Linked DNA regions of Homo sapiens. The protein of the gene in region 1 purifies or fractionates together with the protein of each later gene. This does not show direct contact. Each region holds a gene or a part of one and is shown on either strand. Other genes may lie near its edges.

The links. The genes of interacting proteins can lie anywhere in the genome.
Region 2: the proteins of RASGRP4 (region 1) and DSG4 purify together in Homo sapiens (affinity purification with mass spectrometry; 2 studies listed by BioGRID and IntAct, with this or other methods). This does not show direct contact.

Annotation. Positions count from the first base shown.
Region 1 is NC_000019.10:38,416,205-38,423,228, forward strand, and holds part of RASGRP4 (RAS guanyl-releasing protein 4), read right to left. Parts: intron 5,950-7,024; coding exon 5,765-5,949; intron 4,997-5,764; coding exon 4,891-4,996; intron 4,767-4,890; coding exon 4,704-4,766; intron 4,059-4,703; coding exon 3,927-4,058; intron 3,810-3,926; coding exon 3,656-3,809; intron 2,361-3,655; coding exon 2,187-2,360; intron 965-2,186; coding exon 848-964; intron 1-847.
Region 2 is NC_000018.10:31,372,001-31,379,782, reverse strand, and holds the start of DSG4 (desmoglein-4 isoform 2 preproprotein), read right to left. Parts: upstream 3,007-7,782; 5' UTR 2,872-3,006; coding exon 2,824-2,871; intron 1-2,823.

The DNA.
Region 1 (7,024 bases):
TGTAATCCCAGCACTTTTGGAGGCCAAGGTGGGTGGATCGCCTTAGGTCAGGAGTTTGAGACCAGCCTGGCCAACATGGTAAAACCCTGTCTCTACTAAAAATACAAAATTAGCAGGGCATGGTGGTGCACCCCTGTAATCCCAGCTATTCGGGAGGCTGGGGCAGGAGAATTACCTGAATCCGGGAGGCAGAGGTTGCAGTGAGCCGAGATTGCACCACTGCACTCCAGCCTGGGCGACAAGAGCGAGACTCTGTCTCAAAAAAAAAAAAAAAAAAAAAAAAAAATTTCTGGAGATGGGGTCTCGCTATGTTGCCCAGGCTGGTCTGAAACACCTGGGCTAAAGTGATCCTCCAATCTTGGCCTCCCAAAACGCTGGGATTACAAGTGTGAGCCACACTGTACCCAGCCTATAATTATTTCTTAAAAACCCAGATTTTATCAAGGGTGTGTCATCACTCTCAAAACTTCCCTAGCTTAGCCCATCTTACAAGGCGCTATAGGATCTTCCCAGGGCATCTTCGGCTTAATTTCCTGCCACTTTCTGACCTCAGCCAGTCCTCCCCATGGGGACTGCAAAGTTCTCTGCTAGCCTGTCTCCCATCTGTCTCCCTCACAGTCCAGCTCCGGACCAGACACACTGAAAGCAGAGAGGGATCAGCACCATGAGTGGATGGATGACAGGGAGGAGGAATGCTGGCAGAGCCTGGGGGTCTGGGATTTGGAGGAGCAAGGACTTCATGTGGTACCAGGACCCCTGGGCAGGAATGGACAGGGCTTGGGGAATTAGGTGTGGGGGCTCAAGACAGCTGACCACTTGGAGCTTTGGGGAGGGTAGTGGGATTCACCTTGGTGCTGTCAGGGCTCAGGTGGGCATGGGAGTCCTTGAGTCTGGAGATGGCACTGTGACACAGGCCCCCTGTGACTGCCATCAGCGTGTTGAAATTCTGCAGCTGGTGGAGCCTCTAGGAAGAGAAGCATGCACACAGGGCCGTCACGGGAGGGAGGGCAAGTCAGGAGTTCAGATGACAGCATCCCAGTTGAGGTGGGGTCCCAGGCATGTGTGGACCAATGTGGGGATCAGACAGGTGAGAGAAGGCGGGTGTGTGCGGCAAGAGTGGGACATGCCATGTGTGGGCCTCACAGGGGTGTCAGATGGCTATCTGAGCCGGGAGGGTCAAGCAAGTGATTGACTGATACGAGGTTAGAAAATCTGGGGAGACAGGAAGTACGAGAAGTTGGGCGGATTTGGGGAATAGACAGGTGTGTGTCAGGTGGAGGAGGCTTCAGACATGTCAGGGTGTCAGCCATCTGGGGGTCTGACTGCTCTGAGAGTCACACAGGTGCGGGGAGGCAAGAAGGTGCAGGCTCTGGGCAGGAGCTGGGAGCCAGGCAGAGGTGAATAGGGCCAGAGAGATATGGAGGAGTCAGACAGATGCTAGACAGGTGTGGGGCCACCAGGGCAGCTGGGGAATTCCCTTGCCCTCCTTTTGACAAATTTCGGCAGAGGTTGCTGTGGAGAGAGTGGGGCCAGGGAGGAATGGAAAATGCTCAGACTAAGGACACCCCAGGCGGACGTCGAGACCCCCAGGTCTCAGGGGCCCTGCAGGAGTAAGCAAGCCAGGGAAGACACCAGAGGAAGGGCGTGGTCTGCGTGGAAATACGCAAGGGGGCGCGGCCACAGCGGGGCCGTAGGGCTTCCCTTTTCCCCAGAAGGGCGAGAAGGTGTCCGGAAAGGAGGGGGAAGGGAGGGGAAGAGAAGGGCGTAACACAATGGGGCGGGGCGGGGAGAGCCCGGACGCAATGGGGAGCGATGCACAATCCCGAAGCGACCGCTGGGGCCTGGGGACTGGGGATTGAAGCCTCGGGCTTCCATGCCCCACAAAGGTGGGGGCATGGAAGAGACACTCTCATTGACCTGGGGATAGAATATTCGGGCATAGGGCTTGGGAGCCTGTCACGTCTAGGGCCAAGGGGTGGGGCCACGGTGGGTGCGACGCGGTGACATCAAGGCCAAAGAAGAAGTTACGGTCCTTGGTTGGAATGCCCAGGCTGTGGCCTCGGGGGCGGGGCCGGGAGATGCGTGACGTCACCGCCGGGATGACCCTGTGGGGTCGAGGGTCTGGAAGGGGAAGGACCAGGTGGCTGCGTGCAGTGGAGTTCGCAGCCCCAAGGGGCGGGCCTCACCTGTGCCACGTGAATGAACTTGTCCAGCACCTGTGCACGCTGTAGGGGCCCGGGACGGCTCAGCACCATCACCTGCACCCAGCGGGACACGCTGTTGCTGAGACCTACGGAGCCCTCCAGGGCCGGGCAGCCTCGTACTGAGCCCTGCAAAACGTAGCTCCGCAGGTCCTGGGGCTGGGAGCGAGGTGGGTGTCAAGGTGGGCCGTGGCGCTCAGGCCCTGCCCTTCCATGGCATCCAACTAGCAGTCACGATCTCTGATGTCCTAGCCTGGTCTAGCCGGAGTGACCTTTGTCATCTGTCCCCCAACCCTCAGGCTGCTACATGTCCTTAACGTCACCATGCTCCTCTCCCATCTGAGGAGGCATGTTTCAATATAGCCAGGCACTATATTTGACAAGTAATCATATTAAATAATTTAATCCTCATAACTCTATGAGGTGAGTATCATTCCATTTTAGAGGTGAGACAGTTGAGGCACATAGAGGATAGGTAATTTGCCCAGGGTCACACAGGTGTGAGTCAGGGTGGGCGTCTATATGCTCTTAACTGTACACCTGACTGGTATACAGTAAGCAAAGGGAAGGCTGGGGAAGATGAATTGAAATCAACCTCTATCTGTTCTGCCCAAGGAGTGTTCATTTCATACCCACATCCACTACACTGAGTATATTTGCATACACACTCACACACACAACACACACATACAATCGGGACAGTTTCACATGAAGGAAACAGATCCCCACCTTCCCTTGAAATGATGATGTCCAGATGGCAAAAGCTAATGCATATATATGTTGAAGCACATGAAACTGATCCTTGGGTAGGTAATATATGACAATTTCAAATGGTTCAAGCAGATAGCATTTACCCTGGACCAGGCACTGTTCCTGCAAGGCAGGAACTGTGCATATCCCCTTTTTACAGATGAGGAAACTGAGGCACCATGAATTTAAATGCTTGTTGAATAAATGATAAAATATTTTGAGCACTTACTAAGTGCCAGTCGCTGCAATAAGCCTTTTATTTATTTATTTTACTTTTTTGTTGTTGTTGTTTTTCGAGACAGAATCTCGCTCTGTCGCCCAGGCTGGAGTGCAGTGGTGTGATCTCAGCTCACTGTAATCTCCGCCTCCTGAGGTTCAAGTGATTCTCCTGCCTCACCCTCCCAAGTAGCTGGGATTACAGGCATGCACCACCACACCTGGATAATTTTTGTATTTTTAGTAGAGATGGGGTTTCACCATGTTGGCCAGGCTGGTCTCAAACTCCTGACCTCAGGCGATCTGCCTGCCTTGGCCTCTTTAACTCATTTTCCTGGACCTTCTAGCATACAGGTTTGAGTTTAAGACTTTGAGATCTCTGCCGAATGACCATGCAGGTGTCCTCTCAGTCCTACCTTCCCCCAGCCAATCCCTCCCCTACCCCAGTGTCTCCCCTGCTTGGGACGGGGATGGGAGGGGGTCCTCACCGTGATAGCCTGGAAGGACCGGAACTCCAGGTAGGTGAGGTGCTGAGCCAGCTCCCCCGTCTCCAAGTGGTCGAAAAGCAAGGACACTTTGCGCTTTTTGCCCAGGCCTGGGCTGCTCATTGGGAGTGGGGGGCCAGGGCCACCAGGGCTCAGGCTGGGGGCCAAGAGGGGCAGGGTATTGGAGTGGCTCACAGTTGAGGGCTTGGGGATATAGAGGGAGATGGCAGAATGGCGATGGGGCAGGGAAGAGGGGAGCACAGGGCTGACTCACAGGTCAGAAGAGTCTCCCAGTCTTCTCTGGGCTGAGTTGCCCTCCCGGGCCACGGTGGCCCAGAAACGACCTATGACTTCTTCTAGCTGGGGATCCTGGTGCATCACCTCAGGGTGTCGCATCAGCCAGTACCTGAGAGTGGTTTGGAGATGGTGAGATGAGGCCGGGGGTGGCGAAGGTCTCTACAAGGGGTATTTTGGGCTGAGGAATTTCTAGGTGCTGAGCTAGGGGGTCTCTAAATGTGTGTGGGGGTCCCTGGAGGGTTGGGGTTTGGAGGGGCACCAGGCTTGGAGAATCTCTGGAGTAGGATGGGGGTCTCTTAACAGAGACTGGGGGGATCTGTGGGAAACAGACCGGGGAGTCACTTGGAAGTGGGATTATTGGGAAGCAAGATCGTGGAGCGTCCTAGGAACTAGACTGGGGGCTTCCGGGGGTGAAATTTTTGGAGGGACAGAATGAGGGGGTCTTATGGGCTAGGCTGGGGTCTGTGGGAGGTAGAGATTTTGGGGATCAGAGTTGGAGGTCTCTGGGCACCAGCTAGGAGGGTCTATGGGATCTGGTTGGTGAGGGGGGTCTCTAGGAAGTGGGGGTTCTAAGGAACGGAACTAAGAGGGTCTTAGGAACCAAGCTACAGGTGTCTCAGAAGTGGGATTTTGGCCTGTGGGGCTGGTTGGGTCTGTGGGAACTGGCCTGGGGATTCTCTGAGGAATGTTTTTTGAGGGGGAAGCAGGATGGAAGTCGTGGGTCCTGAGAGTGGGGATCTCGGCCCAGCCCTACCTGACCAGGTGACAGATCTGCAGCCGTCTCAGCTCCTGGGTGTCCCCTGTGGCCTTCTGGTATTTGAGTTCTGGTCAAGGCTCTGTTTTCCAGGATCCATGACCTGCCTGCTCCCCATTCCCATTGCCCAGGTTCTCACGACTCTGCCCTCTGCCCTCCACCCATAGCTCACAGTCCTGGAGGATATGAGGTCAGCAGGCGGGCAGCCAGGTCGGCGGACGGCAGCACCCAGCTGTGCATGGCCAGCACCATGTTGAGCATGTGGTCCTCGTGGCACAGGCTGCCAGCTGAATCTGGGGTGGAAGGAGGGGTACTCTGTGACAGAATGGCCCTCAAGCAATGCAGAGCGTAGCTCCAGATCCTGCCGGACCACCTGGTTCAAAGACCAGCTCTAACGGTGATCCCCAGCATGACCTTGGACAGGCAACCTAACCTCCTGTGCCTCAGTTTCCTTATCTGTATTGTGCATGGGGCAGCATCACCCCTGGCAAGTCTTGCTGAAGATTGAAATAGCACCAGACTGGCCGGGCACAGTGGCTCACACCTGTAATCCCAGCACTTTGGGAGGCTGAATCGGGCGGATCATATGAGGCCAGGAGTTCGGGACAAGTCTGGCCAACATGGTGAAACACCGTTTCTACTAAAAACACAAAAATTAGCTGGGCCTGGTGGCATGTGCCTGTAATCCTAGCTACTCGGGAAGCTGAGGCAGGAGAATCTCTTGAACCCAGGAGGTGGGGGTTGCAGTGAGCTGAGATCAGGCCACTGCACTCCAGCCTGGGTAACAGAGCGAGACTCTGTCTCAAAAGAAAAAGAAAAGAAAAGAAAAAAGATTTATATAAATATATATAATATACACATATATTATATATATATATAAATGTATATATTTCCATTTCAGGAAAGAAGAAATGCAGGTGTTTCTGTTATCTCTAATGTAGTGATTGAGTTTCATTCCACCCAGCCCTGTTCTCATTTTACCTCCAAAAACTGAGGTGGAGAGAAGCGAGTGCTGAGCCCGAGGTTAGGGCCAGGGAGGCTGCTGGGGAGAGGACACTTACCGAAGGACTGGATGCATTTCTCCAGCAGCTCATCTTCGCTGCAGCCGCCCTCACTCAGCAGGCCCAGGTTCATGGAAGCCATGACCTTGCTGATTTCCCGAGGGCTGGGGCATGTCTTGTGGCGGCGCACTTGGCGGGGCCGGCCTCGCCCTCCTATTTTTCCGGTGCATTCCTGGTGGGACTTCCTGTGGGCACAGCCCCCAAGGAGTCATGGGAGCACCTTCTTTCGGACAGACCCTAGAATTCCTTTTGACTCTAATGCCCCAAGGCACCACGGGAGAGGCTTCCTAAAGGCAAAGCCCCAGGGTTACCCCTGACCTACCAGGGACTCTAGAGAGAATCCCCAGGAATATTCCAGATCCCTGGGGGAATCATGGGAGCCCTCTCCCACAAGCAAACTCCCAGGGATATTCCTGCTCCCTTCAGGGAATCAGAGAGGAAGATCCTCAAGACCAGGGGTCCCCAGCCCCTGGGACACAGACAGGTACCAGTCCGTGGCCTGTTAGGAACCAGCGGGCAAGCAAGCACCCCCGCCTGAGCTCCACCTCCTGTCAGATCAGCTGGGGCATTAGACTCTCTTAGGAGCATGAACCCTATTGTGAACTTCACATGCGAGGGATCTAGGCTGCGTGCTGTTTATGATGCCTGATGATCTAGGCTGCGTGCTGTTTATGATGCCTGATGCCTAATGCCTGATGATCTGTCACTGTCTCTCATCACCCCCAGATGGGAGCATCCAGTTGCAGGAAAACAAGCTCAGGGCTCCCACTGATTCTCCATTATGGTGAGCTGCGTAACTATTTCATTATATATTACAATGTAATAATAATAAAAATAAAGCACAGGATACATGTAATTAACTTGAATCATCCCCACACCATCCCCACCCCCTTCCACAAAACTGGTCCCTGATGCCAAAAAGCCTGGGGACCGCCGCTCAGGACTGCTCTGAATCTCCCAGGGAATCACAGTAGAAGACCCCTGGGACCACTCAAGACCCCTCAGGGAATCATAAGAACTCCTTCCCCAGGCATTGCCCCCAACTTCCTCTTGACTGCTTCCAGGGCATCCTGGAAGAGACTTCCTTTTGGCAGATCCCAGGATTACTCCTGGCCTACCAGGGACTCGGGAGAAGACCCCTGGAATCTCTTCTGTCCTCCCCAGGCAGAGGCATGGGAGGACCTGCCTTCAGGAATTGCCTCCTCAGGGCTCCCGTTTGGTCTCTAACACCCTCCCCTCCTTCCTCCCACAGCCCTCAAG
Region 2 (7,782 bases), on another chromosome or scaffold:
AATAACATATTTGAGTGCATGTGAGAACTAAATTGATAAGTGGCTAAGTTAATTTTAAATATGTTTTCAAATTTTGATGCCTGCTCTCAACTTGCAATGAGATAACAGCTATATTTAGCCACCTACCTTTTTAACTTCCAAGAATTAGACTATTTAATGGAAGTGCTTACATCTTATATGTAGCATGAATGGTCATCACACATAGAGAAAAATTCTTATCTGATAAATGGTTGTCTTTTATGACCTTATCCACTTGATATAATATAGGCCTCTTCCAGCTAATAACTGTCCTGCCGTAAGTGATTCCTTCCTTATAAAATTTATACAATCCATAGAATTGCCTAAATCCTCAGATTCTCCAGCCAAATTTATGAAAACTATTTATGAGCCAGAAATGAACTTCTACTATGTAAGTATTCAGTGGAGATAATTTTAGAATTGCAGTTTCTACAGTGGAAGCAACTTAATAACATCATGTCTAACCATACATTCTCACATGAGGTCAAAGGAAGCCCTGAGAAGTTGGGTGCTTTTGCCAAAGTTACACAGCCACTTTGAAGAGGAGCTGTAATTCAAACCCGGGACTTCTGAATCTCGATTCACTGTTGAATGTCCCTCACCACCCCTGTCTGTTTTATAGAAGAACATGATAAGCATCCTTAGGAAGAAAATGCCAAATGACTCGTGATAAAATCAGTGCCCTATTGTAATCTAGAGTTTTGAGTACCTTTTGCTGGTTAGCCAGTCAGAACTTTGTTTACAGTGCTCTTTGCGGTTGAGATGTAGCTGACACAAAGTACCTGTGAGTCTCTGAGAGGCTGCCACACCCTCATTAGTGTAAGCTGCAATGATGCCCCAGAGAGTCTTTGATTTAGTTAATGAAGAAGGGGCAGAGTTCAAGTTCAGGAAATTAAAGAGAAGTAGGCATGTCTACTTTCCTATAATATCTATAACATCTCATTGATTCTCCTTAAACAATTCTTGTATTTGTTTCAATTTTGAAATATGCCAGAAGTCTCTACCTCCCAATTCCAGACACTATTAATTGATATGGTAAGGGATCTTTTAGACAAGCATAAAGAAAAAAAATACTTAAAGAACTTTTTCACAATTACCGTGAAATGTCAAACACAAAGACTTCAATATCAATGAGGAGTAGGAGGAATTAAGTATTAAAAACGCTAGTATTACCAAGGAAAATAAATAAATACTACCAAAAAAAGATCCTGAGAGTCTGAAGTATAATACTCTTTCAAGATCAAGGAGAAGAATCAACTCTTCAATTAAATAATATTATCATAAATCATGCCTGTGCAGAAGGCAATGGGAGGCAAGATTTAGTGCTCAGAAGTGGCCTCTAAAATCTTGACACATACAATTTTCCTTACAGAAAACCAAAAGTTTATCTGAGTCAAAGCATGAATATACTCGGTAGAAGAGTAACAAGAGGTATATCCTCATAACTTACTATTTCAATTGAAGACCAAGTCCGATTCTTGCCTCTTCTTTTAGTAACATTTATTTTATTTAGTAAATAAATAATGATCATTGTAACAGAATATTGCCCTTCGTCTTATGTTTTTAAGTTTAAAAATATTTTTCAAAAATGGTATTGTTTAATAATCTGTCTCCTAAACTCAGAGGATGCAATATTCTACCACTGTTGTCACGTTCCCTTTTGAGCTTGGGGTTGTGTGCCCTTTGGCAGTGTTCGGCTCCCGCACTGCTCTTGAAGTTTAGAAATGTGAATTCCAGAAGAGTAGCTCTCACTGTGCCTCTTGGACAATGACGTGCTCCCATCTCTCCCAGCCCTAGCTACTCTCTGTCTCTTACAACTGATGTTCAGAGGAGTCTGGTATAATTGCCACTTGCCTAAGAATAGGATGGGAATCACTTTCTAAGCTTAGGTTGTAGCGCTAACCTGGATACTCCTGGGAGATTGAAGTGTGGCCAACTATAATGCATTTGTCTTAATTTACTTTGAAAAATTTGTACAGTTCCTAATAATCCTGTCCTCTTACCCTCCCAGAATTGGCAATAGTTTGTTGATTGGCCAACTGGAACTTTGTTCTTCTTTGGAGTTGGAATTATCTCTTTCTAGGGTAGGATATTTGCTATGCATGCTGCCTGTCTGGAAATCATGTCACACCTTGGGCACCCAAAGGTTAGAGGAAAGAAATATAATATCCAAGATGCCATGTTTACTGTAAAGAAATAAGTCATTTAAATATTTCTTTGCTGGTCTGTAGGAATGCATTCATAATTCCAGAAAAGTTTTGTCTTGATGGCTGGGCTTCATTTTTCTTTAGCAATATCTGACTGGAAAAAGTTCTCATGACTTTAGTATGTCATCATTAGTTGCAATGTAATTTCAACATGGCTATCATTCCTCCACTTTGAAAGAAACTCATAGGGAAATAACTATTGAAAAGAAATGGGTTTGATTAACTTCCCTTCAAATTTAGAACCCATTTGCACTGGCAGTTTTCACAGCAATCTATCTGATTTATTTATATGATCATAGAATATGAATTTTATTTCCAATTTAAAATTTTAGAATAGTCCTAACACTCAAAGTGAAGTAGATTATGTCTCTGAGGGCATATAAATTTAATTCAGCCAGATTCTCACCCCGCTTCTCTATGGCATTTTGTTCCTCAAGGCGGAGAGAGTTGTTTGAAATTAACAGAGGCTGGACTTCTAGAACTCTCTTTGCAGGAAGGAGATTAAAAATGGAATAAATCCCATGTAGAAAGCCCGACAGTTGACAGAGACAAGACCTTGAGGCTGCATTTCCTTCCCACCTCTTTAAATTCTACTTACCATTAGAATGATCAAAAGGCAAATGTTTCTGAAGAAGAGCCAATCCATTCCTTTGGGTTTCTCTTGCACGCAAATCCTGTGAGATTCAATTTGAGCCCTCGTCTTCTCAGTTCCGAATTCTGCTCTACAGAAAGATATGCTTTGAGACACCCTTTTAGGAGGGCATGGGTGATAACTGTGGTGATCTCTGGGCAGAGAGATGAAGATATTCTATAATGACTGTTTCCCCACCCCAAACTCCCAGGCTGGTCTGGAAGACTGGCATTGTTTGGGCTCTGGGTAAGAATTTAGACACACCTTGATTCTTATTGCAATGAAACCCTTTGTTGGACACCAAAGAAAAACCTTACAGAGCGAGGACAAGATTTACAGGGAAGATAGCCAGTGAATAATAAATTACTCACAACATAAAAAATAATTAAAATGCTAGGGCCTATCATCATGCTGAATAAAATTAGAAGGCTTCTTCTTACTGCCAACATTGTAAAAGCAAAATTACATATACTGACAACACATACACACACATGTCCACTGCAGAACCCACTTCAAGGAATGATACTTTTAGCAGAGGCCATTGTTGAAAGTCATCAGGACTCAAGTATGGTATAGGAAGAAAGATAGAATAATGACGCTCATTTCAATTCAGTTGAGTCCTGCTTCTCTCTTTAAAATGTCTTGTGGTTGAACCGCACTCTCAATTTTAAAGATTTTCTGAAATAACAAAGTTAAGATGAAGGAACTCTGATTTAACTAGTACCAGTATGTTTGTTTCCATACTTTGGCATTTTCTTTCTTGATTATTCAGTCAAACCTCTACAATATGATATTTACAAAATCATTTTAAAGTAACTACAATACAACATTCTCACTTCTCATAGTATTACCACTGATAAAAAGTACATAATGTGGGTGAGGAACACATTTTACACCACCACAAATATTTATTAAGGAGAAACTGAAGTTGGAAACGTGAGAATTTAATGAAAAAAAGCCCAGAGTGGGATCTGGATATTTTTGAATATTATTTCCCTTTTTCGTGTCTCCCTTTTCCTTTGTTAGTATGGGTTTGAAACAGGGTATAGAGTGTCCTGATGCAAACATTGCAGGCTGGCAGCAACATCAATAAACTTAAAAGAAAATGCAGTTAACTGTTCTCTGATTGATAGATAATACATGTTGGTTGGAGAATTTCAAAGGGAGACTGCCTCCTGTCTTCACTATCCCATCACTGTAATTCAGAAACAAGGTTGACCCTGGTAATAGAATGTATTCTAAGTATTGCTTAGTTTCTTGAGAAAAGTAGTTTTAGTATTTTTGGAAGCCAGATAAAGTAATTTACTTTTGCATTATTTCATGTCATGTTGAATTAGATAATTTAATTTGCCTAAGAGAATTAATGAAACAACTCCAGGTCTTTAAGTGACATTGCTTTTTACAAGGGAAAAACAACATTCTTCTCTATTGTTGTGTTTGAAGGAGATATTTCACAAAGGTCTCTATCTTTTGTTTACACTATAGATGATTTCTTCTACATATAAGATTTTTCTTATATTTTCTTCTAAATATAAGATTTTCTATCTACTTGAATGCTATTTATAGGATGAGTTTTAAAGAAAAGAAACAGGAAGCAATAGAAATAGGTACTAGATCATTTATGTGGGTACCTCTAGCTTTCTCCATTTGAAACTCCTGATTTCAATGGTATCCAGAATTTGAATCCAGATTATAATTATGAACATATTTAAAAGATTCTTCAGTAACTAAGGAGGAACTACCTGAAGCCCCATCATTTCATTTCTGTTTACTCCTTGGAGATTTGTGGGAATGATCTTTTGCTTTAAAGTTTTTTTTGGAGACAGAGTCTTGCTCTGCTTCTCAGGCTGGAGTGCAGTAGTGGTCTGAGTGCAGCTCACGGCAACCTCTGCCTCCTGAGTTCAAGTGATCCTCCCACCTCAGCCTCTCAAGTACTTGGGTTTACAGGTGCATGTCACCACACTTGGTTAATTTTAAAAATATTTTGTAGAGACAAGGTCCTGCTATATTGTCCAGGCTGGTCTCAAACTCGTGGGCTTAAGTGATCCTCCTGCCTTGGTCTCCTAAAGTACTGAGATTACAGGTGTGAGCTACTGTTTCCCACAGGGGATGGATGATTTTACAGTGGAATTCCCAAAGACAAAACTTGGTTATGGTTCTGAGCTTGTGTAGATAAAGAGTAGCTACTTCCGTTTCTCTTGAAGAGTATCAGTCATTGTAGAAACAGAGCATAAAACATTAATGCTTAAAGATACCACAGAGATCATATAATCCAATCTCTCCTATCTTGCCTCTCTCCTACCCATGTGATAGTGATAGTCTAGGGAGGCTGTATGGTTTATTAGGGTCAAAGATAGGCAAGAGTTCCATCTCCTCATTCATAGTCAGTTTATATAAATACCAAGCCACTTTTCATTATTAGCTACGTATGTGAAGGCAAAATAGTGGATGGTTAAACACTATTAGCTTTAAAAGACTTTCCCATACTTTAGAGTTTACTGAACTGTTGGTTCTATGAGCAGAATTTTTAGCAAGTTTTTTATAGTATTTATTTTTGATGTCAAACCAGTGACATTTCATTTGCTCAGATGAAACCATACATTGGCTTTTAGGGATGCTACTGATATTTAATTATTGTACTTATGCTTCTATAATATTGTATAAAGTAGCAAGACACCTTTATTCTCCACATCACATCTGTGTAGAACACAGTGAGAGCTTTAACACCTGTACTTTTCAAATCAATGCCACAAAAGGCAAGGAATTCAATACATGCCAATACAAGTCCTCTTTGAAAAACAGAAATGTAATTTATACAGACAAAGATATTGTGGAAATGACATTAGGGCAAACTTTTCCATCAAATTATTCTAGTCTAGGGTTACTACTGGATATTATTCAAATATCCAAGGACAATTCTATTTCTTGAAAGCAAGAGTTAGGGGGAAGGAAATTTAAAAAATAATTATGGTCCTAAAGTATGGTGGTCAAATGCAGCACAAGTTGTTTCCAGAGCTGACGCAAGCAAAAGGTTTTCATCTGCCTGGGCCTGGGGAGGCGGGGACAAAAGGTAAACAAGGCTTGTCAGGGTTTTGACCTAGAGTCATTGCTGTGAACACATGTCTGTTCACCTACCACACTGAAGATAAACATCCTGTCCCCTCATTAAAGGCAACTTATGTATGGCAACAAGGGGCCGGCCAACCAGGTTATTTAGTGGGTGTTAGAAATCATAGAGATTAAACATCAGTTTCGTAAAGAGTTATGTTATTTCCATAAAGATGATGTTAGTTTACACCCTAAAATCATGCTTACATCCTGACAGAGATGCCTTGTTGATTATCTCTGTGAATTCACAGGTATAGGATGTATTCCAAATAAGTGGAGACAGAAGAGCGTGGCTTCTAGCTGTATGTTAAATAAAGCGTATTACTTACATACTTATTGCATACTTGCTACATACTTATCTAGGAAATATCATCTTAGTTTGCCTCCTGCCTCCCGATGACTACAGTGGCAACCATTCTACAGTGTGATAATTATTTAGATGTCACTCTGGTTTCTTCAGTGACACTGGCAGTGTCCCTCTTATGACAAAGTTGTATCATGTACATGGTTAACCTTTGATGCTGTTAGTTATATATCTGGCAACCTCGACTATGGAATCTGGTCAGCTCAGGATGTCTGAGGAAGAAATCCAGCAATAGGAAGGTCAAAAGGTAGGCAGTGTTTTTTGAAATATATTTCTTAGGCCATTATGTAGAAAATGCAGGTTCCCTGGCCCCAAATTTAGTGAATCAGAAGCTTTGGGGATGAGATCTAGAATTATTCATTCTTAACATACTCTTTAGGTAATTCTCGGGAGGCAGGCTGAAGTTGAAGAATTATTGAATCAGGGTAATCACGTGGCCCTATGGGTGGCCCAGGGAGAAATGGCACCAGGTAAAAAAGAACATTTTTCTTTTTTCTTTTTTTGAGACAGAGTCTCCCTCTGTCACTCAGGCTAGAGTGCAGTGGCACAATCTCAGCTCACTGCAACCTCCACCTCCTGGGTTCAAGCGATTCTGCCTCAGCCTCTTGAGTAGCTGGGATTACAGGTGCCCGCCACCACATCTGGCTAATTTTTTGTATTTTTAGTAAAGACGTGGTTTCACCATGTTGGTCAGGCTGGTCTTGAACTCCTGACTTCAAGTGATCTGCCTGCCTCTGCCTCCCAAAGTGCTGGGATTACAGGCGTGAGCCATGGCACCCAGTCAAAAACATTTTTCTAGTGTGAATAAGATTAGCATCTCTTCATGGGGTGGGCCAGGGGCCGGGGAGAGATACTGGCCATTTATATTTCTTTTTATTTGAAATATTTATTTCCTTTTTCCTGGTTTTCCACTGGGCTGCTGATGTCTTTAATACTGGTTCTTTCATGTACTTTTGTATATGAGAGAAAACAGCCTCTGTCATACGTGTCACAATTCACGTAATTTGCATTTTTTGAATTTGTTTTGATTTTTTTTTGCAATTGATAATGATTATGTTTTCGCATAGGATAGGTTTTTATAAACAATTCTGCTTTCTGTATTAGTTTGTTGTTGTAAACTACAAACTTTCTGTATTTGTTGTTGTAAGTAAGTTATCACAAACTTAGTGACTTAAAACAACACAAATTTATTATCTTACTGTTCTGGAGGTCTGAAGTCCACAGTGAATCTTGGGCAAGGTTAGTTCCTGCTAGGGGTTCTTAGGAATAGATGTATTTCCCTGCTATTTCCTGCTTGTGGAGGCTGCTTTCATTCTTTGGCTTATGTCCTCCTTCCAGCAATCACATCATCTCTGCTTCCTTCCTCATGTCTCCTTTATGTCAGCAAATGTACATGAATTCCCTAGGTTGTATCAAGGTGTGGAATTTCTGGGTCATAAGTTAACATTTTTTAA